Homo sapiens: one gene and its partners. The protein of the gene in region 1 interacts with the protein of each later gene in a pairwise test. Each region holds a gene or a part of one and is shown on either strand. Other genes may lie near its edges.

Region 1 (7,856 bases):
CACCCTCTTCATTATAGTATGGGAAGGAGTTTAGACCTTGGATGCTTGCCTCCATCCTTTGTACCACATCTCATGCATTCCTTCTGCACTCTCTAGAGACTAATCCATGTCATTCATCGTAAGTCTCCTTCCCCAGCCATTCCGCATTGCTTCCCCACCCTCCTTTTGAGTATCACCTGGGTAGGAAACTGGCCTTGCGGTATCATCCCGACAAGAATCCAGGGAATGCTCAAGCAGCAGAAATATTCAAAGAGATCAACGCAGCTCATGCCATACTGAGCGACTCTAAGAAGCGGAAAATTTACGACCAGCATGGCTCATTGGGAATATATCTGTATGATCACTTTGGTGAAGAAGGCGTCAGATACTATTTTATTCTGAATAGTTGTTGGTTCAAGGTACACAATTCTCCAGGTCCTTTAAGAATAAGGAAAGAAGGGTGACCTTCCTTTCCTTATGACAAATGCTTCTGTTGTCTCATTTTCTGGGTGCCAGGAGGATTGAGGGAGGGAAGCTTGAGCAGTCATATAGAAAACTGCTGGACTGAGGCCATTCTCGCCTACCTTTTAGACACTTGTCATCCTGTGTACTCTGCTCACTTGTTGCTGTTTCTGTTGTTGCTGCTGTTTTTGCTGTGGAGCACTTAAACCACCACCTGAGCAGGATAGTGGGAGAAAATATCAGCAGAATGTCCAGAGTCAGCCTCCAAGGTCAGGTGAGAACTGCAAGCAGGGACTGTGAGGTAAGAAATGTCTGGATTGGGAATGAAAGAAATGATTGGGGTTGGGCACAATGGCTCATGCCTGTAATCCCAGCACTTTGGGAGGGTGAGGCGGGTGGATCACTTGAGGTCAGGAGTTGGAGACAAGCCTGGCCAACATGGTAAAACCCTGTCTCTACTAAAAATACAAAAATTAGCTGGGCATGGTGGCACCCACCTGTAGTCCCAGCTACTTGGGAGGCTGAGGAGGCAGAAGAATCGCTTGAACCCGGAAGGCAGAGGTTGCAGTGAGCTGAGATCGCGCCACTGCACTCCAGCCTGGGAGACAGAGCAAGACTCCATCTCAAAAAAAAAAAAAAAAAAAAAAAAAGAAAAGAAAAGAAAGAGGCTGGGCATGGTGGCTCAAACCTGTAATCCCAGCACTTTGGGAGGCCGAGGCGGGCGGATCACGAGGTCAGGAGTTTGAGACCAGCCTGACCAACATGGTGAAACCCTGTCTCTACTAAAAATACAAAAATTAGCCAGGTGTGGTGGCGGGCGCCTGTAACCCCAGCTACTTAGGAGGCTGAGGCAGGAGAATTGCTTGAACCCGGGAGACGGAAGTTTCCGTGAGCCAAGATCATGCCACTGCACTCCAGCTTGGGCAACAGAGTGAGACTCCATCTCAAAAAAAAAAAAAAAAAAGAAAGAAAGAAATGGTTGAGGGTGAGAAAGACCTGTGAAAATGGCAGGTTAATCCCTAAATATGACAATTTCAAGTCTTCAAGTCTGGCACTGGGACAAAGTGAAGAAAAAAAAAAGATCAATATGTTTCTGTGCATCACACGACAAACTGACAGTTTGAAGGTAGTAGTGTCAGCTCCTGTTAAGCTAAGGAATGGGGTGGGAGAGTATGTCTAGAGAGGACAGTTAGGTTAAGACAGATTTGAGGATGCAATTTTTGTTGTTGTTGTTTTGTTGTTGTTGGTGGTGGTGGTGTTGAGATGTAGTCTCAGTCTGTCACCCAGGCTGGATGGAGTGCAGTGGTGCGATCTCAGCTCATTGCAACCTCTGCCTCCCGGGTTCAAGCGATTCTACTGCCTCAGCCTCCTGAGTAGCTGGGATTACTAAAAAATTAGCTGGCTAATTTTTTATTTTTAGTAGAGTCAGGGTTTCGCCATGTTGGCCAGTCTGGTCTCCAACTCCTGACCTCAAGTGATCCACCTGCCTTGGCCTCCCAAAGTGTTGGGTTTATAGGCATGAGCCACTGTGCCTGGCGGGATGCAATTTTTTCCATCTACTCAAAGGAAAGGGCCAGTTGCAGTGGCTTGTGCCTGTAATCCCAGCACTTTGGGGAGCCAAGGTGGGCAGATCACTTGAGCTCAGGAGTTTGAGACCAGCCTCAGCAACATCATGAAACCCAGTATCTACAAAAAAAAAAAAAAAAATACAGAAGTCAGCCGGTCATGGCAGTGCACACCTGTAGTCTCAGCTACAGGGGAGGCTGAGGTGGGAGGATTATTTGAGTCTGGGAGGTTGAGGTTACAGTGAGCTGTGATCATGCCACTGCACTCCAGCCTGGGTGACAGAGTGAGACCCTGTATCAAAAAAGAAGAAGAAGAAGAAGGAAAGGAGGAGGAGGGGGAGGGGAAGAGGAAGAGGAAGAAAAGAAAAGGAAAGTCTGAGATCATTCCCCCCCAAATGAACTTTTATAAGCTGATTGAACTTGACACCAGCGCCACCTGGTGATGCTAATGAGTAACTGCAAGGTAACGGTTTTCTCATCAGTACACTACGAAAAGTTACTAAACGTTTGTATATGTAAACATATATATAATTCCATCATAGGAGCCAAATGTGATTTTAGAAGCGAGGAAAATAGCGAAGATGATTTTTAAGAGATGAAGAAGGATGAGGTATGTAAACCGAAAGGCAGCAACAGTTATCAGATAAGAAAAGCATGTAAGCTAACGTCAGATGAGTCATTAGTAGAAAGTTTACATCCTTATAGTATGGACTATGTGTTTATATCCTTACATGTAGGGGTTTGCTTTAAGTTCTAGGTAATTATTCCTTCTGATTAATAAAGCGCCACCTTCTTCCGCCACTAGGTGCTGACCCAGTGAGGGTGCCTTCTGCTGCCCAGTCCCCTGGACACATTGAAGAGAGGAGCAAGTAGCCCTGTCCTGACATTGACCCTGATTTGACCCCTCTTCTTATAAGGATCTCAAGAATCTCTTCAGAAGCACTGATGACGTTGATCCCAGTAAGGACATCACCTCTACCCTTGGTACCACAACTCTGTATGGGGTTGCCCAGCTACTCTTCCTTTCAGTTGCAGTCCCAATTTTACTCCGTCAGAAAGCAGCCCTCCCCTCCCTCCCCTTATGAGGTCTCAGGCAGTGGTGGCAGATTTTTCCTGAAGAGTCTTTTTCCTGTGTCTGCCTTGTTATTGGAACCAATGCCAGCTGGTAGGATCCCTGAGCCCCTTGCGATATCACCACCAAGAGCCTGATAACTGAGCAGGGTGGATCCTGTCCCTGGAGCTGCTGCACCCATTAATTCTCCCTTGTTGCAACTCTGTGTACCAAGAACCCCTAGCATCAGCCTCATTCCTAAGCCAATAACGCCTGTATGGAGTTGGTTTCATCTTCTGGTGCCCACGGCCATTGGCATTGCCAGCCTCATTCCATGCCACTATGAGTCAACTCAGGAAAACTGCGAGTGCATTTGAGGCTTAGGGGTAGTCATTCCATCTTTAGATTATCCTTGGACTTCAGCTACCAGCACAGCATGCATTAGCCTTGGTCCTGTAGGTTAACTGAAGTTCAAACATCAGTGCCAGCTTGCCTCCATCCTTTTCACATATTATGCAGGCCAATTGACATATAATTTGTTCTTAAAAATAGGGGCATGAAATATGTGATCTGGAAAAGATTGTACTTTCTGGACTCTTTTCCCACTCTTGCCTCTTTGTGCTGCTGTTTCGTATCCTCCTCACACCGTGTATTTCCCACCCACTCAGGGTCACAGCCTACTAATTCCTCAAACTTCTCTCCCTGGACTAGGAGAAAGGCTAAAGAATGTCAGTAAATAAAAGAGCTTTCATCCAATCCCAAGGCATATATTATGCCCAAAAAAGACAAATTGTGTCTGGGGTAGAGAAAAAAGGCCTAAAGAAATTGCTTCTTGGCCTTTTGCCTAAGATCAAGTGGAGAAGACTTGTAGGAGAAAAAGAAGACCAGTGCTCACAAGTGGGGCAAGCCTGGCTTGGAGAGTAGGAGTCCTGGACAACTGTGGAGCTGGGTCAGAGGCTTCCCGGAGCCTTGTGATTATGACTTTGTCAGTGCTCTAAAATTTCCCTGGAGATTGATTCCCTGGGTGCCCAAAATAGGTCCCTGGCATTCAGGTCCTTTCTGCCCAGCTCACCTTCTCCCAATTTCCTAACAAATTTGAGTCCTTGGAGTGGCTCCAGGGATGTGTTCACGGACCAGAATCCCACATTTCCTCGGGGGCATGCTCATAGGTAGGTCCAGGCCTTGGCACAACAGTCATTTCTAGCCTCTTGAGCTTCTTTTCCTAGGGTGATATAAGAAAAGGCCAGGGAAGAACAAAAATGAGCCAGAGGTGTTGGACAAGAGGCTTGATGTAGTCCCTGGAGCTGCTGTTCTGAATCACACAGTCTTGAGGAGGAGGACCAGGGTCACTGGCTGAGCCTGTGGAGGAGGCAACCGCTACTGACTCTAAGTCTGGCAAGATCTTTCCTCCCACCCTGAGCTATGTATGGGTGCCTCTCACACAGGCAGATTTAGATTCTGTGTCACTGTCCTGGAAGAAGGGCCCAAGCCAGAACAGGGGTCCCGGGCTGAGAGGAGCCTTCAGAGTGAGAGGGCAGCACCTTTGCTGACCCACCTTTCACTGTAAGCAGTGGCACTCACCCCTGCCCTTGCTCAAGGGAGTCACCCATTCCTGAGTGAGTCAGGGTCACTCACTCCATGACAGCTGTGGCTCGCCTTACATGAGCTAAATTGGGAATTGGAATGTCATGCAGATGCCCCTTGTCTCCCAACCCCCACAGTAAAATTAATCTGCTCTCTGGGGAGTAAGGGACAAACAGTGCTACCCACAGAGTGAACAAGAGAGAGTCATTTGGGAAACAAAAGGAGAATTTTACAGAGAGAGAGGGATAGCTAAAACTACGTGAGCCTGGCGAGGGTGCAGAGCAGAAAGTAGAGACTGTCCGAAGACTGCTATCTGGGACGAGACAAGTTGTTAAAGGGACAGGAGAGAAAGCAGAGCTATTTCAAGAGTGAGCCACAGAAGGGAATCCAGAGGCCATCTAAGCGAGGAAGGGTCTACAGGCAGTGAGTGAAGGCCAGGAGCAGGGCCCAGGCCAGGCACGACCACCGAGGGGATGAACTTCACAGTGGGTTTCAAGCCGCTGCTAGGGGATGCACACAGCATGGACAACCTGGAGAAGCAGCTCATCTGCCCCATCTGCCTGGAGATGTTCTCCAAACCAGTGGTGATCCTGCCCTGCCAACACAACCTGTGCCGCAAATGTGCCAACGACGTCTTCCAGGTGGGTGCCAGGGACGGGGCAGGGCCAGGTAAAGCAATGCAGACCTGTGGGGGACTGATCAGGTCAGAGCTGAGACCCCAGAAGGTGATGGATAGAGTGCTCTCTGAGGTGGGTGGTGGCTGTTGTGGCTGGAGAGCAGAAGGGCTGGGGTCCAAGCAAATCCCAGAGCAAGCATGAGTCAGCAGCTGCCCTGCAGGCTGGCAGGTACAGCCTGTGCATAGACGGCAGCTGGAGTGCTGGGATCTACCAAGGAAAGTAGACCCTGTGGAAACTGGGAGGGAGGGTATCCCACACCGGGCTTTATAAGAGCCTGTGCCAGACTCTGCATTCCAGTTTGGAGTTTCAGACTTCGAGAGCATTGTGGAAAATACGGAGAAAAGATTAATGAGATAATGAAACGTTAAAAAACAAACAAACAAAACCCGACCCTGTGAGAAAGCTCCATAATGGCAGTAAAACTATTTGTATTTAAGGAAAGTTGAAGGCATCCATTGTGGGTGACAGAGTTAGACATAGTGGGCAGGAGACTGGGAACTCTCCCCAACTTGAGTTCATACCTGTTACCCTCCAGATTGTTCAGTAAAGAGGCCTACTGGTTAAAAGCTACTGAGGTCACTTGACAAGCAGGGAGAAGGCAAAGAAATTTACTTCTCAGAAGTCCAGCCAGTTTTGTTTTATCTGTGGTCATGGGGCCAAGCAGAGCTAATCAAATTCACAGATACTAGTATAGCCACTGGTTTAGAAATAAAAGCAGCATATACCAGAATGGATTATAAGTGGGCTTTTTTTTTTTTTCCTGTGCTACTGGGGAGGTTCTAGTAGGCTATAAAATGGAACAGAGATCAGGGAGAGTGAGGGGCAAAGGCACACACACACACACGCGCGCACACACACACACACACACACACACACACACACACACGGCCTTGCCGTTAAGTAAAAGCCCTGAATATGGCCAGGTGCAGTGGCTCACGCCTGTAATCCCAACACTTTGGGAAGCTGAGGCCAGCAGATCACGAGGTCAGGAGTTCAAGACCAGCTTGGCCAATATGGTAAAACCCCATCTCTACCAAAAATACAAAAATTAGCCGGGCGTGGTTGCAGGCGCCTGTAGTCCCAGCTACTCAGGAGGCTGAGGCAGGAGAATCACTTGAACCCAGGAGGTGGAGGTTGCCTTGAGCCGAGATCATGCCACTGCACTCTGACCTGGGCGACAGAGCAAGACTCCATCTCAAAAAAACAAAAACAAAAACAAACCCCGAATAGACCAGAGCTGGCTGGTTTAGTATGTGTGTCAGTGACATGGAACATCCCAAACAAGTATTCTTCATCTGTGTCAGAAATGATGAGGAAATGTGTTAAACACAAGTGATTTTTAACCTAACCAAGAAAATACTTCCCTTTTTAAGTTCCTTGGGGCAGCTTGTTTTGGAAAGGAATGGGCTGGCTAGGTCAGGCCATCCCACAATGTACCCTGTGACCCACACCTTGTGTGTCTGCTCTGTGCCACCTTCACTGAAGACCAGCACTCTGTGGTCTCTCCTGCCATCTTCCCATTGAGACCCATTCCCTCTCCTATTCTTTATGTGTCCAAACCTGCCATTATTCAGCTCCAGAGTATCTCAGAGCCAGTAGATTTTCCCTCTCGGGGGGCCTAGACCAAATGCTGTGCCTCCTCGTCCTGGGCATGAAGTCCTACATGAGAGGCAATGCTTTGCCCACCATCTTGGTTTTTCCTTGGTCTAAGTAACTCTGAACATCCTTCAGGCTGAGATGCCTAGGAGGGAAATGGCAGAAAGATTTTGCCATCCTTTCTCATGAACTTACAGTGAAACATCCTCACACTGGAACTTGAAATGTGTGAAAGCAAAGAGAAGTTTTGAAAGCTAAGGTGATGTGTCCTGTAGAAAAGTGGTCAGAAGGGCCAAGTGCATTCCTGGGTCCCTCTGTCATCTGGCAGAGGAATAGGCCCCATACATGGAGGCTAGAATGTGTTTAAGTGACCTGCTTATTTAAGTCAACTCTCTCTATCCAAGCACACTGTTTCAGTTCCAGAAAGCTCTAGAATACGGATCTGGGCTCAGAGAGACCTTGGAATGGCTTGGGGCAAATCCTGTACAGAATATTTGGAGATAACATGATACCCAGGGCTTTGGGGTGGCTCTGTGGATCTGGAGTGGTGTATCTTTTGAGGTGCAAAGCACCCTTGGGCCCTCCAAGGAGGAAGAGTGAACAGCTCATCCCTTGCTGCTTATTTGGGAGGGCCTGGTGGGAGGCTGACCCAGTTCTTCAGCTGCACTTAGATCTGTGTATCTCAATATATCTCAGTAGATCTCCCTCTGAAAGATGAGCATATTTAGTTTTTTCGCACATTGCCTCCACATTTTGACAACTGTAGGCATAATCAGATTGTCTGTTTTCTAAGTATGGGGCAAGAATAGGACTTTTGGAAAGAATAGGACTTTTCCTCTACCTTCAAACCACTTAGGAAGAATACCCTTAGAGCATTGCCTAGAAAGTTAACGGTTATCAAAGTGATACCAGTATATCACTTAGAATTTGTAACATGTAAAC
Region 2 (7,423 bases), on another chromosome or scaffold:
CCTTTCCTAGACTGTAGCCAGTATTCTCAGGTCATTTTCAGCACTGTCTTCGGTATTGATGCCTGTTTTCAAGAGGGTAGAATTGCTTCTTCAGAATTTCTTTGGCTGATGGGGCTGGCTATAAGGCAGAAGACTGGGTTCCTAATCCACCTCTTCCACAAGCTCTCTGTGGCGAGTTGCTCAGACCCTCTCAACCTCAGGGTCGTCCTCTGTGAACAAGGAAGTTGGCCTGATAACCTGCAGTGACCCTCCCACTCTGCCAGTCGGTGATTCTGTGAAGTGGTGTAAAGGGCTGTGAGCCTCAGGCATAAACAGACAGCAGGGAGAGACTTAGTATACTCCACTCTGCCAAGAGAAGATACACTGGCAAGCTGCAGTGGGATGAAAATCGGAAAACTGCCTGCCCCAAGAGCTGCCCCACAGCCTGATGTGCAGCTTAAGCAGAATTCTCTGAATTATCCTCATTACATTTATAATGAAAATGCCTATTAGGAAACTTACATGAGTCTGTGCTGTTTCCAAGGCATTTTTTTCCTATCTAAAAAATGTCCCTGTTTGTTGTTGTTGTTTTTGAGACAGGGTCTCACTCTGTTGCCCAGGCTGGAGTGCAGTGGTGCAATCTTGGCTCACTGTAACCTCTGCCTCCCGGGTTCAAGCCATTCTCCTGCCTCAGCCTGCTGAGTAGCTGGGATTACAAGCATGTGCCACCGCACCCAGCTATTTTTTATTTTTAGTAGAGATGGGGTTTCACCATGTTGGCCAGGCTGGTCTTGAACTCCTGACCTCAAGTGATCTGCCCGCCTTGACCTCCTAAAGTGCTGGGATTACAGGCATGTGCCACTGCACCCAGCCTCCTACATCACCTTCTGATTGGCCCAGACATGTAAGTTTGGCTCTGCTGTGCCTCACTGAACAGAGTCATCAAGCTGGAGGACCCTGATGGCTCAGTCGAACTTTCTGTAGCTGGGCCATGATACATTTTCTAGAGCTGGGAGAAGGATGGCATGTGGACAGGTGAGACTGGCCAGCAAGCCTCTCCTGTTGACCCCACAGGAAGTCCACACCTGAAGGGGACCTTTGTGGGGCTTCCAGAGGGGCAGATCCAGGATCTGGACACTGGTCACATGCCTTGGGTCCCAGGCTTTGTGCCTGAATTGCCACAGAGCCATCAGGATGCCAGGGGTTCTGTTGACCCTTGCTATGTGAGGGCAGTTGGGCCTCAGTGCCCAGGTGACCTGGTTGGATGAGGGCTAGAATACAGCAGGCCTTTGGTCTGGGAGAGGGCCAGTGGGGCAGTGGACTGGTCACAGTTTTGGTCACCAGTCCCAGGATCCAGGTGTCAGGGGCTCCCTCCAGTGGCCCTTTTATGACAACTAAAGGAAGTCCTATTGTTCACAGCGAGGGTTCTCAGCTTGAAGTTCCTTGTGCCTCTTTTAGGGAAGACACTCAGATGGTATATCGAGTATAAAATGACTTAGCGATTCTTCTCCTCAAAATGTGTCATTTATGATCCTTTTGTAGTTCATGAGTGTGATGATTGTGTGTTCATACGCTTGTGTGAGATGTGCCACCCTTGAACCTTGTTACGACATTGGCACATTACCCGTCTGATCTGAAAAAAAAAGTATCATTTATTTACTTACCTAAAATCTATGGAGTGCTTACTATGTGCCAAGTGCTTTTTAAAGCACTTGGAATACCTGACTGCATGAACAGAAACACAAATCTCTGAGCTTGCAGTCTGATGGGAATAGGGGAGATACATAATAATAATCACAATAAATAGGTAAGTTCTAAAGTTTCACTGTTTAATACGGTAACTGCTACTCAAATGTGGCTATTTAATTAAAATTAGAATTACTTCTTCAGGCACCCTAGCCACATTTCAAGTGTTCAGTAGCTGTATTTGTCTCATCATTACCATACCGGGCAGCACAAATATGGAACATTTCAATAATTGCAGAAAGTGCTATTGGACAGCACTAATCTAGAATATGTTAAAAGGCAAAATGTGCTATGAAAAAAAATTAGAGATTTTTAAAGCATGTTGCAGGGGTGGAGAAGGTATTACAATTTTTTTTTTTTTTGAGACAGTGACTCGCTCTATTGCTCAGGCTGGAGTGCAATGGTGCGGTCTCAGCTTACTGCAACCTCTGTCTCCCGGGTTCAAGCAATTCTCCTGCCTTAGCCTCTCTAGTAGTTGGGATTACAGGCGCATGCCACCATGCTTGGCCAATTTTTGTAATTTTTGTAGAGACAAGGTTTCACAAGGGTGGTCTCGAACTCCTGACCTCAGATGATCCACCTGCCTTGGCCTCCCTAAGTACTGGAATTGCAGGGATGAGCCACCGCACCTGGCTGGAATTACAATTTTAAAGAGTAATTGTGGTGCACCTAATTTAGAAGCTTTTGAACAAAGATTATCAGGAGGTAAGTGAATGAGTCTTGGAAATACTTAGGAGAAGAGAATTCCAGGGCAGCGGACAAGCAATGCAGAGGCAGAAGCATACCAATTTGTGGAAGTGTTTGGAGTGCACCAGAGAAGAGAAGCAGAAAAGAGGTAATGGGGGCAGATCTCAAAAGCCTCATAGATCACTGTGTTATTCTACAGAAATCTATGAGGACATAAATATATGAGTACAAAAATGTTCTTGCAGCATTGTTTGTAAGCAGCAAAAAATTAGAGGTGAGGCCAGGCACAGTGACTCACGCTTGTAATCCCTGCACTTTGGGAGGCTGAGGCGGGCAGATCACCTGAGGTCAAGAGTTCGAGACCAGCCTGGCCAACATGGTAAAACCCCATCTCTACTAAAAATACAAAAATTAGCCGGGCGTGGTGGCACATGCCTATAATCCCAGCTGCTCAGGAGGCTGAGGCAGGAGAATTACATGAACCCGGGAGGCAGAGGTTGCGGTGAGCCAAGATTGCGCCACTGTACTCCAGCCTGGGCGACAGAGCGAGACCCCATCTCAAAAAAAAAAAAAAATTAGAGGTGACATACATGATTATTATTGGGGAGTGGTGACATGTTCATGCAGTGGTTGGTGAGGATGAGGGTGAAAGGATGAGGTTATAACCATGCATAGAAAGCATCCTGGAGGCCAGGCACAGTGGCTCACATCTGTAATCCCAGCCCTTTGGGAGGCCGAGGCGAGAGGATTGCCTGAGCCCAGGAGTGTGATACCAGCATGGGCAACATAGTAGGACCCCTGTCTCTACAAAAATTAGCTGGGCATGGCAGTGTGTACCTGTAGCATGACCTACTCAGGAGGCTGAGGTGAGAGGATTGCTTGAGCCCAGGAGGTTGAGGCTTCAGTGAGCCATGATGGTGACACTGCACTCCAGCCTGGAGGACAGAGCAAGAGCCTTTCTCTAAAAAGAAAGCATTCTGGTGCTGGGTATGGTGGCTCATGCCTGTAATCCTAGCACTGTGAGAGGCTGAGGTGGGTGCATCACCTGAGGTCCGGAGTTCGAGACCAGCCTGGCCAACATGGTGAAAACCTGTCTCTACTAAAATTATAAAAATTAGCCAGGTGTGGTGGCGGTCACCTGTAATCCCAGCTACTCAGGAGGCTGAGCCAAGAGAATCACTTGAACCCGGGAGGCGGAGGTTGCAGTGAGCTGAGACCATGCCATTGCACTCCAGCCCGGGCGACAAGAGCAAAACTCTGTCTCAAAAAAAAAAGAAAGCATTCTGGAGTCTGTAGGCTGCACCAAAAGGGCCATTATCCTGGTAGACTGGAAGGAGCCTGGGGCCCCTGGGAGTTGGGGTTTGAGGTGGCTGTGTGGCTTGTGCTGTCTCTTCTACTGGCAGTAGCAAAGGCCAGGGGACTGTTCAGGTCCTCCCAGACCCTAAACTCACCCCAGTTAGGGAAGAGTCACCAGTCGGGAGGGAATCACCAGAAGCTGAAAGCATACCCTGTGGATCCAGGAATGGCCAGGATGTCTGGGCACAGAATGAGGAATTGTACTTTTGCTGTGGAAGAGACAGGGTAGCTTCTCTGATGATCCTTCCTGTCGGCCCCCACCCTACCATGTTTCCCGGCAGAGAATGGTCAAGAACCTGGAGAAGGAACTAGCACTACTCAAGCAGGAGCTGGCTATCCATGACAGCCTGGTAAGAGGCTAGAGGCAAAGAAGGAGGGCAGAGGTGCTGGGGTAGGGGGTGACTAGAGGGACTGGGGCTAGGGGCAGACAGCATCATGGGTCAAGGCCAATGGTGGGCGGGGTTGGGGGGCAGGCTCAGTGGCAGGAAAGGGGCAGCAGCAAGGGTCCATGAGGACAGGGGTTGGGAGCAGAGTCCTCCAACGGTCCTGAGGGGCCTCGAGGCAGAGGCAGCGCATGCCTCCCGTCCTCGCCTTTCTCATGCTGCAGAGTCTGCTGGGACTCAGCCAGCAGAGCCTCTGTCTGGAGTAGCAGGACCCATGTCTGAGGGTCTTTCCTTTCCTCCCCGACCCCATTATCCCTCTCTGACCCAAGCACCTGGCCTGTTGTGTCAGGCCCTCTGGCAGGACCCGATGATGAAGGGAAGGAGCCAGCTTGGGCAGCCAGGGCCTGTGCCCAGCCTCCCCACTTTGCCTCTCAGAATGGCCCCTGCCACTCCCCTGTGGGCTCAGGTTCTTGTTGCTTATCCACATGTTCTTCATCCTCCTTCAAGACCAACCGCACCTTTGTGACCTATGACCCCATGGATGAAATCCAGATTGCTGAGATCAACTCCCAGGTGCGGAGGTACCTGGAGGGGACACTGGACGAGATCGACGTAAGGAACCCCTCTGTGACCACTATGCTCAGCCAGCCTGGGCCTCCCAGTCCTGGGCACACCCCAACGCATGCTCTGCTGGCCTCAGAGCCTCATGTGAATGGGTGCAGTGGGTGGAGGGTGGTGCTGGACTCTTGATGTCAGGGTCCCTTCAGCTCATCTCAGGGGCACAAGCACAGGCCCTAGAGCCAGGCTTTCTAGGATTGAATCCCAGCTCAGCTGCCTCTTTGCTGAGTGACCTTGGCAAAATACTCAACCTCGTGTACTTCAGTGGCCTCACCTGCCTAGTGGGGAGGGAAACAGAGTGGGGATTAACTGAGCTGCTGCACCTGGGGTGCTTGACTGTGTCCGCAGAATGAAGCTGATGAAGGATGGTGGTCATGCTGGTTGTCTACAAGGTAGACCCCAGGGCCCATGTTGGAGTGGGCCAAGGAGGGGGAAACCACCCCACAAGGAAGGGTCCTCAGGGGGAAGGCTGCATCCTGTTTTCACAGTGCAGTCCATCAAACCCCTCTTCTTGGAGACATGGGCAGACCCCCCTGGCTGTTACTGTGGGCAGCTCCGAGAAGCAGGCCTGGGACAACTAAGGGATGGACTCTTCTGGCCTTCACAGGAGGGGCAGTCCCAAATTAACCCTTGATCAAGGGGAATGCTGTGGGCTTTAGGCTGGGGGGAGGCCAGTAACCTTCCTCCAGCCTCGTGTGTGTGTCTGTGCCCATGCAGACAGGACCATAAATGGGCTCCATCTGAAGACAGCAGGCAGAACCTTTTGGAAGTAAGAGAAAGCTGAGAAGTACATTTTATTAAAAAAAAAAAAAAAACCTTTAGAAGGTATTTTCAAGGTATAGAATCATTTCATTTTATAGAGGTCTCCACTTCGAAAAGGTGGTTTTTATAGCCTCAGCAAATACTTAGTTTTAAAATTATTAATCAGGTGTTTCTCTGCTCTGGAGGAGGGCTTGGCTGCCACTTCGCTGAGAGGCTGTGTGCACACGTCCTCTTCTCGAGACAGATGGTCCAGGGGTCAGCCAAGGGGTCTTGATTTCTCTACTAACATAGATGCCCCCTGGTCCCTCGAGGTGCCCTTGGTCTAACCTCTGCCTTGCTGTCTTCCCTCCAGATAATCAGCCTTAGACAGATCAAGGAGGTGTTCAACCAGTTCCGGGTGGTTCTGAGGTGAGAGACCCCCACCCCTACCTCATTCCTACATCAGGCTGCCATTTTCATCTCCTGCCATCTGGGCACTTGCCTCCAAGAGCTCCTCTTCTTGCTTGTGGATGAAGAGCCAAATCAGAGTCCTTGGGGGCATGCCTGGGTCCCTGGTGGATATTCAGTGAGTTCATTAATTGGACAGGAGGTGTTTATGGAGTGCCAGCTCTGAGAGTGCCCAGAGCAGGGCATTGTGAATATTCACCTTGTGAATATTGCAACACACACTCCCACCTCAGGAGGCATTTGTGGTTTATTTGGGTGCAAACATACCCATAGTCTGAGCAGCTTATGCTAGGTGGTGTCACTAAAGCTGGTCATGTGATTCCAAGTGGCCTCTTAGAGACAGAACCTAAGACAGAACCCCACATGGTCCCAAGTGAAGCTTACGGTCCTTATCAAGTGTCATCTTGGAGCAGACACACATGACATAAGGTAGCCCTTGTGGGTATGGGGGTCGGACAGTGGGTATATGCAATGGGGCAGGGGGAAGTGAGTCCTTTGTCCTTTTGTCTGGTCTGGTTCATGATGAAGGTGTGGCCCCACACAAGGGGCCTCACCCATATGACTTTTAACCCCAGTACTTGGTTCTTGCCCCAGTGGATTCAGCATGGCCCCAGGTACAAGCTGTTCTCTCTTGCTGTCTCCCAAGCCAACAGGAACAGGAAGTGGAGTCCACTTTGCGCAGGAAGTACACCCTCATTGACAGGAATGACTTTGCAGCCATTTCTGCTATCCAGAAGGTAAGCATAGTTGCTACTTGCCGACAGCACTCACCTCAGATTTCCCATCCTCAGACCTTTGCAGAGCCAGCAAGTATTAATGCATTAAACCAGAGCTAGGATTGCAACAGATAAAGGTAACACCAGAATGAACACAGGTGACCTGTGTTAAGAGTAAACCACTTTTGAATTAAAAATAATTTCCATAAGGTAGAGACATGGATAATAATATTAAAGACGATTTCCTGGAATTAGGTTGGAAATAAGCTTTAAGATCCCCAGAGTATGGAATGAGGTGCCATACTGGTGAGGGGGTGCATGTGGAAAGTGGACATTTGGCAGAGTGGTCAGGGACCGCTCTACAGGGGACAGCCTGAGGCTGGCATCAGCAGCTGTCAAACCTTGGTGTGTATGGTGAACATGTCCACCCTGAGCCTTGGGCCATATACATGTGGGTCCCCAAGGGGTCCAAGCCCTTAATCTAACTCACAGACCTTTGGCTGGCCTCTCTATGTAGGCGGGGCTTGTGGATGTTGATGGCCACCTAGTGGGTGAGCCTGAAGGACAAAACTTTGGACTCGGAGTCGCCCCTTTCTCTACCAAACCTGGGAAGAAAGCCAAGTCCAAGAAGACATTCAAAGAGCCACTCAGGTGAGTGACCTTGCCGCTCTGCCTCCTCAGCAGCTGGCCCTCCTCGGTGGGTGCATGGGAGGATGTGCACTGTTCCCA
Region 3 (8,028 bases), on another chromosome or scaffold:
GCCTATGAATTATATCTTTTTTTTTTTTTTGAGACAGAGTCTCACTCTGTCGCCCAGGCTGGAGTGCAGTGGCGCCATCTGGGCTCACTGCAAGCTTCACCTCCTGGGTTCACGCCATTCTCCTGCCTCAGCCTCCCGAGTAGCAGGGACTACAGGCGCCCGCCACCAAGCCCGGCTAATTTTTTGTATTTTTAGTAAAGACGGGGTTTCACCGTGTTAGCCAGGATGGTCTCAATCTCCTGACCTCGTGATCTGCCCGCCTTGGCCTCCCAAAGTGCTGGGAATACAGGCATGAGCCACCACACCTGGCCTTTTTTTCTTTTTGAAATGGAGTCTCGCTCTGTCACCCAGGCTGGAGTGCAGTGGCACAATCTCGGCTCACTGCAAGCTCCACCTCCTGGGTTCTAGCCATTCTCCTGCCTCAGCCTCCCGAGTAGCTGGGACAACAGGTGCCCGCCATCACGCCCAGCTGATTTTTTGTGTTTTTAGTAGAGACAGGGTTTCACCGTGTTAGCCAGAATGGTCTCGATCTCCTCACCTCATGATCTGCCTGCCTCAGCCTCCCAAAGTGCTGGAATTACAGGTGTGAGCCACTGCGCCCAGCCGAATTATATCTTAATAAAGCTATTACACACATAAAAGGCAGGGACTATTGCCATCATTAGTAGAGCTAACACTTACTGGGCATGGACGGTGAGCGAATCCTGTGTTTTACCTGTCTTAACATATTTGGTACTCCTACTAAGCCTCTAAGTTAGGTACAATGATCCCCATTTTACAGATGAGAAAACTGAGGCACAGAAAGATGAAGAAACTTGCTCAAAGTCGCACTGTAGTAAGTTGTGCAACTGGACCTCTGACCATGCAGCCTAGCTCCAGAGCCCCAGCACTTAACCCAGATATTGTACTCACCCTAGGAAGCAGCCCTTAGGCTCCAAGCTGGGTTAGGACCACACCCCTTGTGGTCCTGTAGCAGCTCACACTCCCCCTCCTGTAATTCACATTGCACTGACTACAATCCTGTTTCACTCCTAGGCCGCCAGCTCTGTGAGGGCAGGAGCTCTGTGAGGTCCACAAGGGTCAAGTTCAAAAGTCAGTTGTCGGCCGGGCGCGGTGGCTCATGCCTGTAATCCCAGCACTTTGGGAGGCCAAGGTGGGTGGATCACAAGGTCAGGAGATCGAGACCATCCTGGCTAACACGGTGAAACCCCATCTCTACTAAAAATACTAAAAAGTTAGCCGGGCATGGTGGCGGGCGCCTGTAGTCCCAGCTACTCAGGAGGCTGAAGCAGGAGAATGGCATGAACCCGGGAGGCGGAGCTTGCAGTGAGCCGAGATTGCGCCACTGCACTCCAGCCTGGGCAACAGAGCGAGATTCCGTCTCAAAAAAAAAAAAAAAAAGTCAGTTGTCAGATGGCCAGGCGTGGTGGCGCACACCCATAATCCCAGCACTTTGGGAGGTTGAGGCAGGTGGATCACATGAGGCCAGGAGTTCGATACTAGCCTTGCCAACATGGCAAAACTCCATCTTTAGTAAAAGTATGAAAATTAGCCAGGCATGGTGGTGCACACCTGTAATCCCAGCTACTCAGGAGGCTGAGGTGGGAGAATCAAATGAACCGGGAGGTGGAGGTTGCAGTGAGCTGAGATGGTGCCACCGCACTCCAGCCTGGGCAACAGAGCAGAACAAGACCCTGGCTTTTATGTGCAAAAGCTATTAGAGGGGGCAACAGAAGCAATGGGGAACCCATCAAAGGATGAGGTTCTTACACAGGCTAGGGAGAGGTGGGGTGGCCTGGAGCAGTGTGGAGGCCTAAGTATGTTTTGGACACATAGCAGATAAGATGTCCTGATGACAGGCCTCAGCATAGGAGGGTTCCCAGACCCTCAGGTCTCCAGAGAAGAGCTGATTCTCTGCTCCTGAAGTGGGAAGTTCCTTGTCACTATGTACCTCCTGAATTATTGACTGAGTCTAAACCAAGAGGGAGGCTGGTACCTTAGCCAAGCAGCCATTCAGTTTGCTCCTTGAGTTAAGACTGGTAGACCCTGGAATGTAGCCAGGCCCACCCTTGGTTGGCTCAGAGCCCAGTGAGAGAGAAAACAGAAGGCCACAGAGAACACCAGGGCAAGTGATAGAGATTCAAGGGGGTGAGCCTTGGGCTGGGGGATCCTCCTGCTTACCTCCTGAGAAGGCCTTCCCCCAGGCCTCCTGAGATGGCAACTCTCTTTCTCTGTGTGTGTGTATTCTAGAAAACTACAGCTTCCCTCCCTGGCCCCATGAGAAAGCCAAGCCGGACCAGAAAACACAGAGTCACCAGAAGTCTTTATCTGTTGCCTAAGAAACATGCTGAGGGCTGAAAACTGCTCCGGGTCCAAGAGAAAGGCCAGCTGTCTGCTCTCCTCGCAAGCAAGTAGTACAGGAAGTGGAGGGCCCATTCACCACCCAAAACGCGTAGTCTAAGCAAACCCAGCTTCAACATTGTCCCCTCCAGCCTCCTTCCATCCAGATCACCACCTGTAAGCCCTTCTTCTCATAATCCCCTAGGATTTACTGGGCTGTTATTACATGCCAAAGACTTTTCTAAATGCTTTTTTTGTATTAACTCGGTTACTCTTCAGGACAATCCTCCAGATTAGCTTCTATTATCATCCCCCATTTAACACAGAAGAAACAGAGACACAAAAAGTAACATGCATGAAGTCTTAGTGCCATTAAGTGGCAAAGAGGGGGTTTGAACTCTAGAGCTCATACCCCTAATCACTTTACAGAGTCCACCACTACCAGGGTCCCAGCTTCAGAAGCCATCTTATCTCATTCCCTCTCACCATTGCTCTTTCCACGAAGCATTCTGCGAATGCCATCCAGGCAACGCTTGCATGCTCATTTCCACCTGAGTGCAGGGGATGTGCCTGATACCCATGTGAACTCTTCTCCCTAAAAAGCCCCAGTGTCTGGTCCATACCTGCCGAATGACTGGGTGAACTTGTTTTTTTTTTTTTTTTTTTTGAGAGAGGGTCTCACTCTGTCACCCAGCCTGGAGTGCAGTGGAGCGATCCAACTCACTGCAGCCTCCACCTCCTGGACTCAAGCAATCCTCCTGCTTTGGCCTCCCCAGTAGCTGGGACTACAGGAGTGCACCATGACGCCCAGCTAATTTTTGTATATTTTATAGAGGAGGGTTTTCGCCATGTTGCTCAGGCTGCTCTCAAACTCATGGACTTGAGCAATCTACCTACTTTGGTGTCCCAAAGTGCTGGGATTACAGGCGTGAGCCACTGAGCCTGGCCTGGATAAACACTTAACAGAATCAAAGGAAGCCAGTTCCCAGAGCCATGCTGGTGGCTCTACCTTTCCAGATCTTTCTCATTGTGCCAGGTCACCTCCAGACCAGCTGGCCTTTTATTTATTATTATTATTTTTTTGAGACGGAGTCTCACTCTGTTGCCCAGGCTAGAGTGCAGTGGCGCGATCTCGGCTAACTGCAAGCTCCGCCTCCCGGGTTCACGCCATTCTCCTGCCTCTGCCTCCCAAGTAGCTGGGACTACAGGCGCCCACCACCACGCCCGGCTAATTTTTTGTATTTTTTAGTAGAGACAGGATTTAACTGTGTTAGCCAGGATGGTCTCGATCTCCTGACCTGGTGATCCACCCACCTCGGCCTCCCAAAGTGCTGGGATTACAGGCATGAGCCACCACACCCAGTGGTATAGAAAGCTACCCAGGATGGTATAGGGCCTGAGCTGCTGTTTGCTTTGTCAAGATTATGTTGTTTCCCAAGCAAAAACTGCCTGTTTTCCCAGGAACTCCCTCAGCCTAGCTCCTCAGTCTCTGGGGCACCTGAGGTTCAGGACAACAAGACAGGCAGTTAGAATCTGTCAGGGCAAGCTGGACAGCTGTACTCTAGGCTCTGCCTCCAGGTCTGTGTGTAACTCTGAGAACATGCCTTTCACTCTCTGGGGTTCACTTTCTGCATCTGTAAAATGGGAGTAGGGTTCGCCTAATAGATTCGCCTGGTCCCTCCCAGAGGCTTCTGGACTGTCTGCAGAAAAGTTTACCCTGTTCTTACCTGCCACCCCTTGCAGGGATTTGCGCACCGCGTCCACACAGCTCTGACAGGTCATCTGCACCGCGAACTCCAACTGCAAGGGCGGCAGGGACCAACCGATGATCGCTGGGGAAGTGCCTTGGTATGACTTTGTTTCACCACCTACCCTATGACCACCGCAAGGGTCTGGGAACAAGCCCCACTTAACCCCTCTTCAAGCACCTTCTTCATGATCTCTCATGACCATTCCAGGACCATGGGAGTCACCCCCCAACACTCACGCAGGGCCCCTGCTACCCTCGCACCCTAGTTTCATCCCATGGCCCCAGGCCCCAACCCAAGTGCCCACTCCTTCTCCTCTTCCCAAGGTAACGATCATCCCAGGGGCCGAGGCTCTCTGCCCGGCGAGGCTCCACACGAAGCCTCGACCCTCACCGTGCAGAGGGTCCCCTGGTTCCCCGAATCCGAAGCCATTCTGGACCCAGTCACCACCCCGAGACGCAGAACTCCTCCGGCGCAGGAGCACCAACCAGCGCGGCGTCGCGGGGACTGAGCCTCTAAAGCCACCCTTAACTCCTCCTCCTAGTGCGTGCGCACGCAAGGCCCTGCTTCGTCAGCCACCGGGTGGCGGCCGCGCAGGCGCACTCGGGCCGTCGGGCTCCTGGTTGCCTTAGTAACCCCTCGGCTTTCTGTTCCTGGACGGTGGCGGCCGCCGGCTCTATGATGGAGCCCCCGAAGCCCGAGCCTGAGCTCCAGCGGTTTTACCACCGGCTGCTGCGTCCGCTGTCGCTCTTCCCCACTAGGACGACGTCCCCAGAGCCTCAGAAGCGCCCCCCGCAGGAGGGCCGGATTCTGCAGTCCTTCCCTCTGGCGAAGCTGACGGTGGCGTCGCTGTGCAGCCAGGTGGCCAAGCTGCTGGCCGGCAGCGGGATAGCAGCGGGAGTGCCTCCTGAGGCCCGACTACGTCTCATCAAGGTCATCCTGGACGAGCTGAAGTGCAGCTGGCGGGAGCCGCCCGCCGAACTTAGTCTGAGCCACAAAAACAACCAGAAGCTGCGGAAGCGGCTCGAGGCCTACGTGCTGCTGAGCAGCGAGCAGCTCTTCTTGCGCTACCTGCACCTGCTGGTGACCATGTCGACTCCCAGGGGGGTCTTCACTGAATCAGCCACCCTCACCCGGTTGGCCGCCAGCCTCGCCAGGGACTGCACACTCTTCCTTACTAGTCCCAACGTCTACCGTGGCCTGCTTGCCGACTTCCAGGCCCTGCTGAGGGCAGAGCAGGCCTCTGGGGATGTGGACAAGCTGCACCCTGTCTGCCCCGCTGGGACGTTCAAGCTGTGCCCTATCCCCTGGCCTCACAGCACTGGCTTCGCCCAAGTGCAGTGCTCTAACCTCAACCTGAACTACCTCATCCAACTCAGCCGTCCACCAGAGTTTCTCAATGAGCCAGGAAGGATGGATCCAGTGAAGGAATTGAAGTCCATCCCTCGGTTGAAGAGGAAAAAGCCTTTCCACTGGCTGCCCTCCATAGGAAAGAAGAGAGAAATCGACATCAGTTCCTCACAGATGGTGTCGCTGCCCAGCTATCCTGTGGCCCCCACCAGCAGGGCTTCCCCCTCGCCTTTCTGCCCTGAGCTCCGGAGAGGCCAATCCATGCCCTCCCTGCGTGAGGGCTGGAGGCTGGCAGATGAGTTGGGCCTTCCTCCACTCCCATCTCGCCCCTTAACCCCGCTGGTCTTGGCTACAGAGAGCAAACCAGAGCTGACTGGGCTCATCGTGGCTGAGGATCTGAAGCAGTTGATAAAGAAGATGAAGTTGGAGGGGACTCGCTACCCACCACTGGACTCAGGCCTGCCTCCTCTCCTGGGGGTTGTGACCCGTCACCCAGCTGCAGGGCATCGCCTGGAGGAGCTGGAGAAGATGTTGAGGAACCTCCAGGAGGAAGAAGCCTCTGGGCAGTGGGACCCCCAGCCCCCCAAATCCTTTCCACTTCACCCACAGCCAGTGACCATTACTTTGAAGCTTAGAAATGAGGTCGTGGTCCAGGCGGCTGCCGTACGGGTCTCTGATAGAAACTTCTTAGACTCTTTCCACATTGAGGGGGCCGGAGCCCTGTATAACCATCTGGCTGGTGAACTGGATCCCAAAGCCATTGAAAAAATGGATATTGATAACTTTGTTGGCAGTACTACCAGGGAGGTCTACAAGGAGTTGATGAGCCATGTCTCTTCTGACCACTTACATTTTGATCAAGGGCCCCTAGTTGAGCCTGCAGCAGATAAAGACTGGTCGACCTTCCTGTCCTCAGCCTTTCTACGTCAAGAAAAACAGCCTCAAATCATCAACCCTGAGCTGGTTGGACTTTACTCCCAGAGAGCAAACACTTTACAGTCCAATACTAAGAAGATGCCCTCCCTCCCATCACTCCAAGCTACCAAAAGCTGGGAGAAGTGGTCAAACAAGGCCTCCTTGATGAACTCATGGAAAACCACCTTGTCTGTGGATGACTACTTCAAGTACCTCACCAACCATGAAACAGATTTCCTTCATGTCATCTTTCAAATGCATGAAGAAGAGGTTCCTGTGGAGATTGTGGCCCCTGCCAGAGAGTCCCTAGAGATTCAGCACCCTCCCCCATTGCTAGAAGATGAAGAACCAGACTTTGTGCCAGGAGAGTGGGATTGGAACACTGTGCTAGAGCACAGGCTAGGAGCTGGGAAGACACCCCACCTGGGAGAACCCCACAAAATTCTGAGCCTGCAGAAGCATCTGGAACAACTGTGGTCTGTGCTTGAGGTCCCTGACAAGGACCAGGTGGACATGACCATTAAATATAGCTCCAAAGCCCGCCTGAGGCAGCTGCCTTCATTGGTGAATGCCTGGGAGCGGGCCCTGAAGCCCATTCAGCTGCGGGAGGCATTGCTGGCGAGACTAGAGTGGTTTGAGGGACAAGCTTCCAATCCCAACCGCTTCTTCAAAAAGACCAACTTGAGCTCCAGTCACTTCCTGGAGGAGAATCAGGTCCGAAGCCATCTCCACAGGAAGCTCAACTTAATGGAGTCTTCTTTGGTTTCCCTCCTGGAGGAGATAGAGTTAATCTTTGGCGAGCCAGTGATCTTCAAGGGGCGGCCCTACCTGGACAAGATGAAGAGTGACAAAGTGGAGATGCTCTATTGGCTGCAACAGCAGCGGCGGGTTCGCCACCTGGTCTCGGCCCTGAAGGATCCCCACCAGTCAACCCTGTTCAGGAGCTCAGCAGCCAGCCTTTAGTAGCTCCTGGGAATACCCCTATTACTCCTTGACCAGGCCCAGTGCCCTCAAATGCCTCCCTCACCCCTAAATGGCCAGCAGCTCATCTAGACCTCTTTACTGCTTTGGAAGAAGAAATATTTGTCTATATCTGGGAGTGGAGGGTTCAGGAACATTATGCTTCCAACTATGAAGGGATTGAGACTAAAACTATTGTTTTCTTAGTGAAATTCTCATGAAAGAATCCCCAAGCCTAGTAGTCCCATTATGTCAAGCCTTGCACAATACAAGCCAAATCTCCTATATCAAAAGAACTGAGACCTTGGAGTTAATTGTAGTGGGAAGGGTCAGAGGCAAAGGTGATCTTTGGAACAACTCACTTTAGCATTCCTATCACACTACATTAAATTGTCACCTCTTTTAGTTCTCAAACACTATTAGGAAGAAGAAAATTAATTAAATTTTTACCAGTTACGTGCACATGGTACAAAGTATACCAGGATGTGTACTGAAAAGTAAGCCTTCCCATACCCACCTCCAATGTCTGTTTCGTGCTGTGGGGATAAGTGTTACAATTTTTAAATTTAATTTAATTTTTATTTATGTATTTATTTATTTTTTGAGACAGAGTCTCACTCTGTTGCCCAGGCTAGAATGCAGTGGTACAATCTCAGCTCACTGCAACCTCTGCCTCCCTGGTTCAAGCGATTCTCCTGCCTCGGCCTCCTGAGTA
Region 4 (8,139 bases), on another chromosome or scaffold:
AATGCCCATTATATGCAGGTACTATGCTAGACAATTTCAAAAATATTTTATTTTAGTTACTATTTCATCAGTCTTATTTTTTTTTATTTTTATTTTTTTAGAGACAAGATCTCACTATGTTGCCCAGGCTGGAGTGCAGTAGCTATTCATAGGCACAATGATCACACACATAGCCTCAAATTCCTGGGCTCAAGTATCCTCCTGCCTCAACTTCCCAAATAGCTGGGACTACAAGTATGCACCACCATGTCCAGGTAATCACTGTCTTTTTTTACCTCTAAGATTTATAAAGTTTTCTAAGACACCACAGATAGAAGCTATCTTTTGTAGTAAAGAAGTGCAGCTCTTGCTTTCCACTAATTTTTATTGCTGCTCTTCTACCAGAAGGTAGATTATCCATTGTTATTTACATTAATTATTTACATTGTTTACATTGTTGAAACATTGAGATGCTAGGTTGACAGATGATACAAAATATGTGGTACCTTTGCTTAGAAACTTTTATTCTAAAAAGTTAATGGACAAACGTTAACTTTTCTGAGAGATTAAAATACTGCTTCCGTTAAATAAGCATTTTTGTGTGTAGGCTGTTTTTTTTTGTTTGTTTGTTTGTTTGTTTTGAGACGGAGTCTTGCTCTTTCGCCCAGGCTGGAGTGCAGTGGCACTATCTCGGCTCACTGCAATCTCCGCCTCCCGGGTTCACACGATTCTCCTGCCTTAGCCTCCCGAGTAGCTGGGACCACAAGCGCCCGCCACTACACCCGGCTAATTTTTGGTATTTTTAGGAGAGACAGGGTGTCACCGTGTTAGCCAGGATGGTCTCAATCTCCTGACCTCGTGATCCACCCACCTCGGCCTCCCAAAGTGCTGGGATTACAGGCATGAGCCATCGTGCCTGGCCTGTTTTTTTTTTTTTTTTAAAGTTTGATTGGAAGCAAGAAGGAGGAGGAATATTATCAGAGAAGGGCAGCTTTGAGGAAAGACTGCTGTAAAGATGTAAAGATCCTTATTTTTTTTTTTGAGATGGAGTTTTGCTCTTTTTGCCCAGGCTGGAGTGCAATGGTGCGATCTCGGCTCACTGCAATGTCTGCCTCCCGGGTTCAAGCGATTCTCCTGCCTCAGCCCCCTGAGTAGCTGGGATTACAGGCACATGCCACCACCCTGGCTAATTTTGTATTTTTAGTAGAGACAGCGTTTCTCAATGTTGGTCAGGCTGGTCTTGAACTCCCAACTTCAGGTGATCCACCTGCCTCAACCTCCCAAAGTGCTGGGATTACAGGCGTGAGCCACCGCGCCCAGCTGTAAAGATTCTTTGACAAATCTCTTATAAATTTATAAAATCTAAAATCTTAGAATTGGAAAGAACTTACAGATAATTTAGTTTAGCCTTGGCCTCATTTTACAGAGAAGGAAACCAGACCTAGCAGAGGATATGTTTTGCTCAAAGATAAAACTCAGGTTTCTGAACTCCTAGATGACAACTAATACATTATTAATTAAAAATAACTATATATAACTTCTGTTTGATAATGCCTTTAGGTAGTAACCTCTAAAATAGCCACATCAGCATTTTTCTAAGCCAGTTCCTGAATACCCACTTTGTGTCTGATTCCTCCAATCCAGTGCAGTATACATTTTACATAGACTTGGTCTGGCAATGAGGAAAGAGCATTCATTTTCAATCTTGGGTCTCAGCATAATTTGGTATATAACACTGCAATCGACTGTACCCTGTAAAGCTTTAAGGGGATGGTATTCCAAGAATTAGTATTAGTCTGAAAAAGCAAGTGTTTTGTTTCTCTTTCACTTTTTTACACATCCGTGGTTCCTGGGGGTAAAATAAATGTTTTCACTCTAATGGGTGCACTGGAGGGAGGCATTCTAAATGGAAGGAAGGCATATACAAAAGCCTAGAGGCTTCCTGAGACATCAGGAGGTGTTTGGGGCCCTTCAAGCAGTTGGTATGACTAGAGCACTTTGGCCCCACAGAGATCTGAGTCAAGAGCCAGACCTGCTCTACTCTGCATACCTTGAACTTTAGCTTGAAGGCAGTGGGGAGCTATTGAAGGATTTATAGCAGAGGAATTACAGAAATATAGTTGCTTTTAATTATTATTAATATTATTATTATTTGAGACAGAGTCTCACTCTGTCACCCAGTCTGGAGTGCAGTGGCATGATCTGAGCTTACTGCAACTGCCGCCTCCCAGGTGGGTTCAAGTGATTATCCTGCCTCAGCCTCCCCAGTAGCTGGGATTACAGGTGTGCACCACCACACCCGGCTAATTTTTGTATTTTTAGTAGAGATGGGGGTTTTGCCATGTTGGCCAGGCTGGTCTCGAACTCCTGACCTCAAGTGATCCACCCGCCTTGGCTTCCCTCAGTGCTGGGATTACAGGTATGAGCCACTATGCCTGGCTGCTTTTAATTATTTTGATCACACAGATAATATATGAATACATTTTAATATAAACTCAACTATTAAATCCAAAGTCAAAGTTCTTCACCACTCCCTCCATCCCCAGTTCCTCCTCCGAGGTAATCACTTAGCTGCTTGGTACATACCTCTCCAAACATTTTAAAAAGTGCATTCACAGCTGGGCGCAGTGGCTCACGCCTGTAATCCCAGCACTTTGGGAGGCCGAGGCGGGAGGATCACGAAGTCAAGAGATCGAGACCATCCTGGCCAACATGGTGAAACCCCGTCTCTACTAAAAATACAAAAATTAGCTGGGTGTGGTGGCAGGCACCTGTAGACCCAGCTACTCGGGAGGCTGAGGCAGGAGAATAGCTTGAATCCGGGAGGCGGAGGTTGCAATGAGCTGAGATGTGCCACTGCAATCCAGCCTGGCAACAGAGCAAGACTCCGTCTCAAAAAAAAAAAAAAGTGCATTCACTTATGTATACACATGCATAGGGATATTTCTGGATCTGGGATTATTTTGTGTGTTTTCAAACAAATATTATCCTGTGAAAAGATAAATTAAGAGGGACAGAGCCCGGGTTTGGGTAATTCTGAGAGCCAGCTGGCCATCTGTTTACTTTGCTTGGTGTTCACAGCATATTTTGTGAACATTCCAGTTTTTCTGTGAGATTCTCACAGATGAATTGGTGCTGTGGGAACCATCTGGCAGACCCCAGCCACAACAGCTGCAAATCCTTACAGCCATGTCTACCAGGTCAGCCTGCACTGGGACCTGCCTGAATCAAAAGTTTGCTGCCTGAATTTGTGCATTACAATTCAGCTGGAATTCACAGATATTAAATGTTCTTTGTTGGGATTAGGAAAGGGACAATGTGCTTGCCATGTGTTATGGAACAACTGAGGACACAAACATGACCATGGTTTCCCTTCCTGAAAGAAGTAAAACATTTATTATTTTTGGATTGGTCTACATTGTAATAAAAGTTGATATGTAACAAAACATATCTACATAGTGATTTTTTTTTATTGTCAATTGTCAAAGTTTACTACCACACTAACAGAACAATGACTTTTAACATACGGGTATATCCATAGATTAGGTCTCATTAAAGCTGTTACTAAATGGGGTCTAGGGATGGGGTCTAAGGAATACAGCTTTAGGAACAAATGTGGAAATGGGGATAGATTTATTTATTCCACTCATTAATTCATTCAATATAGTTTTTTGTTGGGAGCAGACAAGGTCTCTCGCTTTGTCACCTAGGATGTGGTGCAGTGGATTCGACATCTGGGCTTAACAGATTCTCCCATCTCAGCCTCCTGAGTAGCGGGGATTACAGGCATGCGCCACCACGCCCGGCTAATTTTTGTATTTTTTTGTACAGACAGGGTCTCCCAGGTTGCCCAGGCTAGTCTCGAACTCCTGGGCTCAATCAAGCGATCCGTCCACCTTGGCCTCCCAAAGTGCTGGGATTACAATCAATATACATTTAGTACCTATTATTTATGGGCTAATCATGTGCTAATGGACTGGTGGAATCACTCTATTCCCTTTGCTCTAGATTGAAGCTTCGAGACCACCTGGGAAAATAGACAACTAATGTAATGAATATCCATAACCAGTTTCAGAGACAACCAGTAGTTTGCAAGTTATTCCACCCATTAAACGATTCCAAATGTTGGAGAAAAGGCCCCCAACTTAAAATACTCCACGGAAACGTGCTCTATACATCTATGTGGTGCTTACAATAAAAGATGAATTCCTGCGACTGAGTTGCAACCCCGAAAGAAATGATTTAGAGAAAAAAAGAAAGAAAGAAAAAGGTAAGTATGTCACCGTGCTTTTGGAAAATGCTTTTGGGATTTGTCCAAGTTCTAGAGTGGAACCCAAGGCTCCTGGGCCAGGGGACAGAAGTGATAACTAAGTAGGATGCAATTTAGTTGGAATCTTCCCTGACCTTAATCCCATAAACAGTTGCCTAGGTAAAGGCAAAGTCTACAGGCCCTAAAACAGGGTACAAGCTTTCCCTAAAACATATTAGAGAGAGGCACTTTCAACAGGACCTTGTTGCAGGATCCCTAAAAAAAAAATTCAAAACAAGGAGATTTACATGTTATTCACCTTATCATAATTTCAGAAATATTTTACTAATAAAAAAGGAGTCGTGAAGTCTGGAACACCTTAAGACGTGACGTCTGCAACACCTTAAGAACAATGATTACAAATGTATTAATATTCTCTCTGATTTTAAGGGAAAAGTGATGAAGGAACAGGAAGATGGGTGGGCGTATGTTCCCAGAAATCCCCAGAACGTCAAAAAGGAAGCGGAGGCTTTGAGTGGAGGACTACGGAGAGCGTCTACGGTTGTGCCAAAGGAAAAAAAATGTTCCTAAGAAAAGAGTATACAAAGTTGTGTTCATCAAAGTCTGGAACCCAAAGGTGTCCCTCCAAAGCTGTACACGACAGAGAAAACGCGAACTGAAAGAAGAAGCAGGTCCCAAGGGGCCAGGCGCCTCCTCCACCTCCTCCTCCTCCTAGGTACGTAGGGCAGAACTAAGGCTGACCCAGACGTAACTCAGCCCTCTCCTCACGCCAGCCGCAGCCAAGCATCCCACGGAGCCTCCCCCCGCGCCCGTCGCCGTGGCGACCGCCGGGGCCACGCAGCACCGCCCCTTCCTCGCGACGTGGCCCCGCCCTCTGAGAACCCGGAAGCGGGAGTCTCGCGCCAGCTGAGCGGCGGTCGGGCGGGGGGAGCGCGGCGGCCCAAGCTCGCTCGGCCACGCGCCCCGCCCCCTCAGAGGCCGGCCTCCCGCACGCACCGCGCAGCCTGCTGTGCCCGTGGGTCCCGAGTGCTCCGCCGCCCGCCCCGACCCGGGCCCAGCCGCCTCCACGGCCCGCGCTCGTACTGGAGCGAAGAGCGGCCTCCTGAAGGAGGGGAAGGGACGTGGGGGCGGCCACGGCAGGTGAGGGTGGGCGAAGCCCTGGGAAGCGGCTGGGTGTGCGGTATGCGGGGTTGTAGGTGTGTGTGTGTGGCGCGTGGCTGCCTTGGTTGGTGTGACTTTGTGAGTGTGTTCTGAGTGGGCCGGTCCATGTGACCACGCACGTGATCACGTGCCCTTGTGAGTGTGTGTCTGGGGCCGAATCTGGGCTGTGGGGTGGTCGGTGTGCTTGTGACCCTGCCTTTGTGTGGCTGTCACCGGTGGGACTGGCGGGGAGCTGTGTGTGAGTCTCCAGCGGGAGGTGGGGGCGGCACAGGGCTTAACCGGGGCATCCTCCTGTAAACCCATCCTGGGGCTACACGACTGCAGCCCAGGAACATTTCTTTCTTTCTTTCTTTCTTTTTTTTTTTCTCAGCAAACTTTTAAGAACTGTGAGCAGAGGCCAGTAATTTTGGAGACAGGACCTCGGCCTGAAAGTGATAGATGTCTTTGTTGTTACTGAGTGTGGGCCAGGTGTAAGGTTTGTAAACGGGGGATGAGGAACAGAGCGGGACCGGAGTGTCTCATTTTTCCTCTTCTCGTTTTCCTGGGGAGTTATAAGTTAGACATTTATGCTGCTTCCTTTGTCTCCACCTACACTGGTTCAGCTCCTTTTGGCACAAAGATTCAACAAATTAAGGAGTAACTTTTTTTTTTTTTTTTTTTTTGAGACGGAGTCTCGCTCCGTCGCCCAGGCTGGAGTGCAGTGGCGCCATCCCAGCTCACTGCAAGCTCTGTCTGCTGGGTTTACGCCATTCTCCTGCCTCAGCCTCCCGAGTAGCTGGCACTACAGGCTCCCGCCACCACGCCCGGCTAATTTTTTGTATTTTTAGTAGAGACGGGGTTTCACCGTGTTAGCCAGGATGGCCTCGATCTCCTGACCTCGTGATCCGCCCGCCTCGGCCTCCCAAAGGGCTGAGATTACAGGCGTGAGCCATCGCGGCTGGCCACTGAGGAGTAACTTAATAGCTGTGTCCAAATTCCAAAAGCTTTTTTCCCAAGAGCATGAGAAGAGATGTCACAGATGTCAGGTAGGCACCTTTTCCTCCTGTAAGGTTTAGAGATAATGCAATGAAGAAAAGAGGGATAGATCTCCCCTGAAGAGATCTAAGAAAAGGATAGCTGTGTACTTCTGTGGTGAGGGATGGAGACGTGCATTAAAAAGCCAGTTGCATCTCCCAGAGACTCTCAGCTTCTAATATTTTGTTATGGCTAGTATTTATAAGCACAGATTTTCCACAATGCACATCAACTATAGATTGAAATAAAGTAGCAGAAACCTCTGACTAATTATGCTGGTTATGTGACTTAAACATTGATAAAGGTGATTTTGTTGACTTTAAAGTGGCAGGTTCTGTTGAAGCCATGAGGGATAGGGGCATAGTCACAACTGGCAGGTTTTTTTGTTTGTTTGTTTGTTTGTTTTTTGAGACAGAGTCTCACTCTGTCGCCCAGGCTGGAGTGCAGTGGTGTGATCTCAGCTCACTGCAACCTCCGCCACCCAGGTTCAAGCAATTCTCCTGCCTCAGCCTCCTAAGTAGCTGGGATTACAGGAGCCCATCACCGCGCCCAGCTAATTTGTTTTTGTTGTTGTTGCTGTTTTGTTTGTTTTTTTGAGATGGAGTTTCGCTCTCGTTGCCCAGGCTGGAGTGCAATGGCGTGATCTCGGCTCACCGCAACCTCTGCCTCCCGGGTTCAAGTGATTCTTCTGCCTCAGCTTCCTGCGTAGCTGGGATTACAGGCATGTGCCACCACGCCTAGCTAATTTTGTATTTTTAGTAGAGACGGGGCTGCACCATGTTGGCCAGGCTGGTCTCGAACTCCTGACCTCAGGTGATCCACCTGCCTCAGCCTCCCAAAGTGCTGGGATTATAGGCGTGAGCCACTGCACCCAGCCACAACTGGCAGTTTTTATTGTCCAGCAGCACAAGGGCCAGAGAAGACAGGGAGTCCACAGCACACCCTGAAGAGGGCTTTCCTTAGGCAAGATTAAGGCTAATATTGTGGCTCTTTTCCCACCAGCATGAACAGGTGCTTTTGTTTTTGTGAAGAACAAAATCATGAGAGATAAAATCAGTTTTGAGCTCATGGTCCACATTCTTTCTTATTCAGTACTGACCAGTTTGGTCACAATCTCAGTTAACCTTTGCCATATACAGAATATTCCTCTTATGATTTGGAAAAGTATACCCCTTTGGTGGATGAAAGAGAGCTAGGAGAACAAACTTTCCTATTCATACCACTCACAGCTGTTTTCCCTTTGCAGCAGTGATCTTTTTTTCACTTAGACGTCAGTTGGTCAGATGCAACATTTGGTATCCATTTTACCTTTCATGTACTGCCAAACTAGCACAAGTGTTAAAATTACTTGTCTCTACAAAAATTTAGTCACAGCGGAGTGGAATCTCTCCATCTTGTAAGATTACTTTTAACACGTTGGCATCCTGAGGTGGTTGTGAATTATTCTGAAGACTGTTGGTAAGGAACATCTTTCTATTTACTGCTATGGGAAAGAAGAGGATGACCGCGTGAATATGTGTGCCTGTGTATGTGTGTATTTGTATGGTGGTTTGGTTTGTGCATTGCAACTGATTTCAAAGCTATGAATGATTTATCCCATTTGGTGACTCTAGAAGCACACTTTCTGGCTTTAGTTAGCTAAGGTGTTTTATAAATCTATTGAGTAGATGTTATTTGCTAAACATGTTTTTATTTTCCCTCCTTTAGAATAGATT

Evidence for each region.
Region 2: the proteins of TRIM54 (region 1) and KIF9 interact in binary tests that used the Homo sapiens proteins (3 or more experiments, as listed by UniProt).
Region 3: the proteins of TRIM54 (region 1) and CCDC87 interact in binary tests that used the Homo sapiens proteins (3 or more experiments, as listed by UniProt).
Region 4: the proteins of TRIM54 (region 1) and SPG21 interact in binary tests that used the Homo sapiens proteins (3 or more experiments, as listed by UniProt).

What each region holds. Positions count from the first base shown.
Region 1 is NC_000002.12:27,277,618-27,285,473, forward strand, and holds the start of TRIM54 (tripartite motif-containing protein 54), read left to right. Parts: upstream 1-4,811; 5' UTR 4,812-5,114; coding exon 5,115-5,282; intron 5,283-7,856. Other genes in the region: DNAJC5G (dnaJ homolog subfamily C member 5G), read left to right, coding at 137-398, 571-715, 2,549-2,598. UniProt on the Homo sapiens protein: May bind and stabilize microtubules during myotubes formation.
Region 2 is NC_000003.12:47,244,713-47,252,135, reverse strand, and holds part of KIF9 (kinesin-like protein KIF9), read left to right. Parts: intron 1-1,509; exon of another isoform or gene 1,510-1,619; intron 1,620-4,049; coding exon 4,050-4,118; intron 4,119-4,658; coding exon 4,659-4,763; intron 4,764-5,883; coding exon 5,884-5,939; intron 5,940-6,624; coding exon 6,625-6,715; intron 6,716-7,211; coding exon 7,212-7,345; intron 7,346-7,423. UniProt on the Homo sapiens protein: Essential for normal male fertility and for progressive motility of spermatozoa.
Region 3 is NC_000011.10:66,589,754-66,597,781, reverse strand, and holds CCDC87 (coiled-coil domain-containing protein 87), read left to right. Parts: upstream 1-4,718; 5' UTR 4,719-4,766; coding exon 4,767-7,316; 3' UTR 7,317-7,606; downstream 7,607-8,028. Other genes in the region: CCS (copper chaperone for superoxide dismutase), read right to left, coding at 4,068-4,140, 4,482-4,520. UniProt on the Homo sapiens protein: Plays a role in spermatogenesis, where it is important for normal sperm head morphology. Also required for the acrosome reaction and thus normal male fertility.
Region 4 is NC_000015.10:64,986,915-64,995,053, reverse strand, and holds the start of SPG21 (maspardin), read left to right. Parts: upstream 1-5,139; 5' UTR 5,140-5,389; intron 5,390-5,583; exon of another isoform or gene 5,584-5,648; intron 5,649-8,139. UniProt on the Homo sapiens protein: May play a role as a negative regulatory factor in CD4-dependent T-cell activation.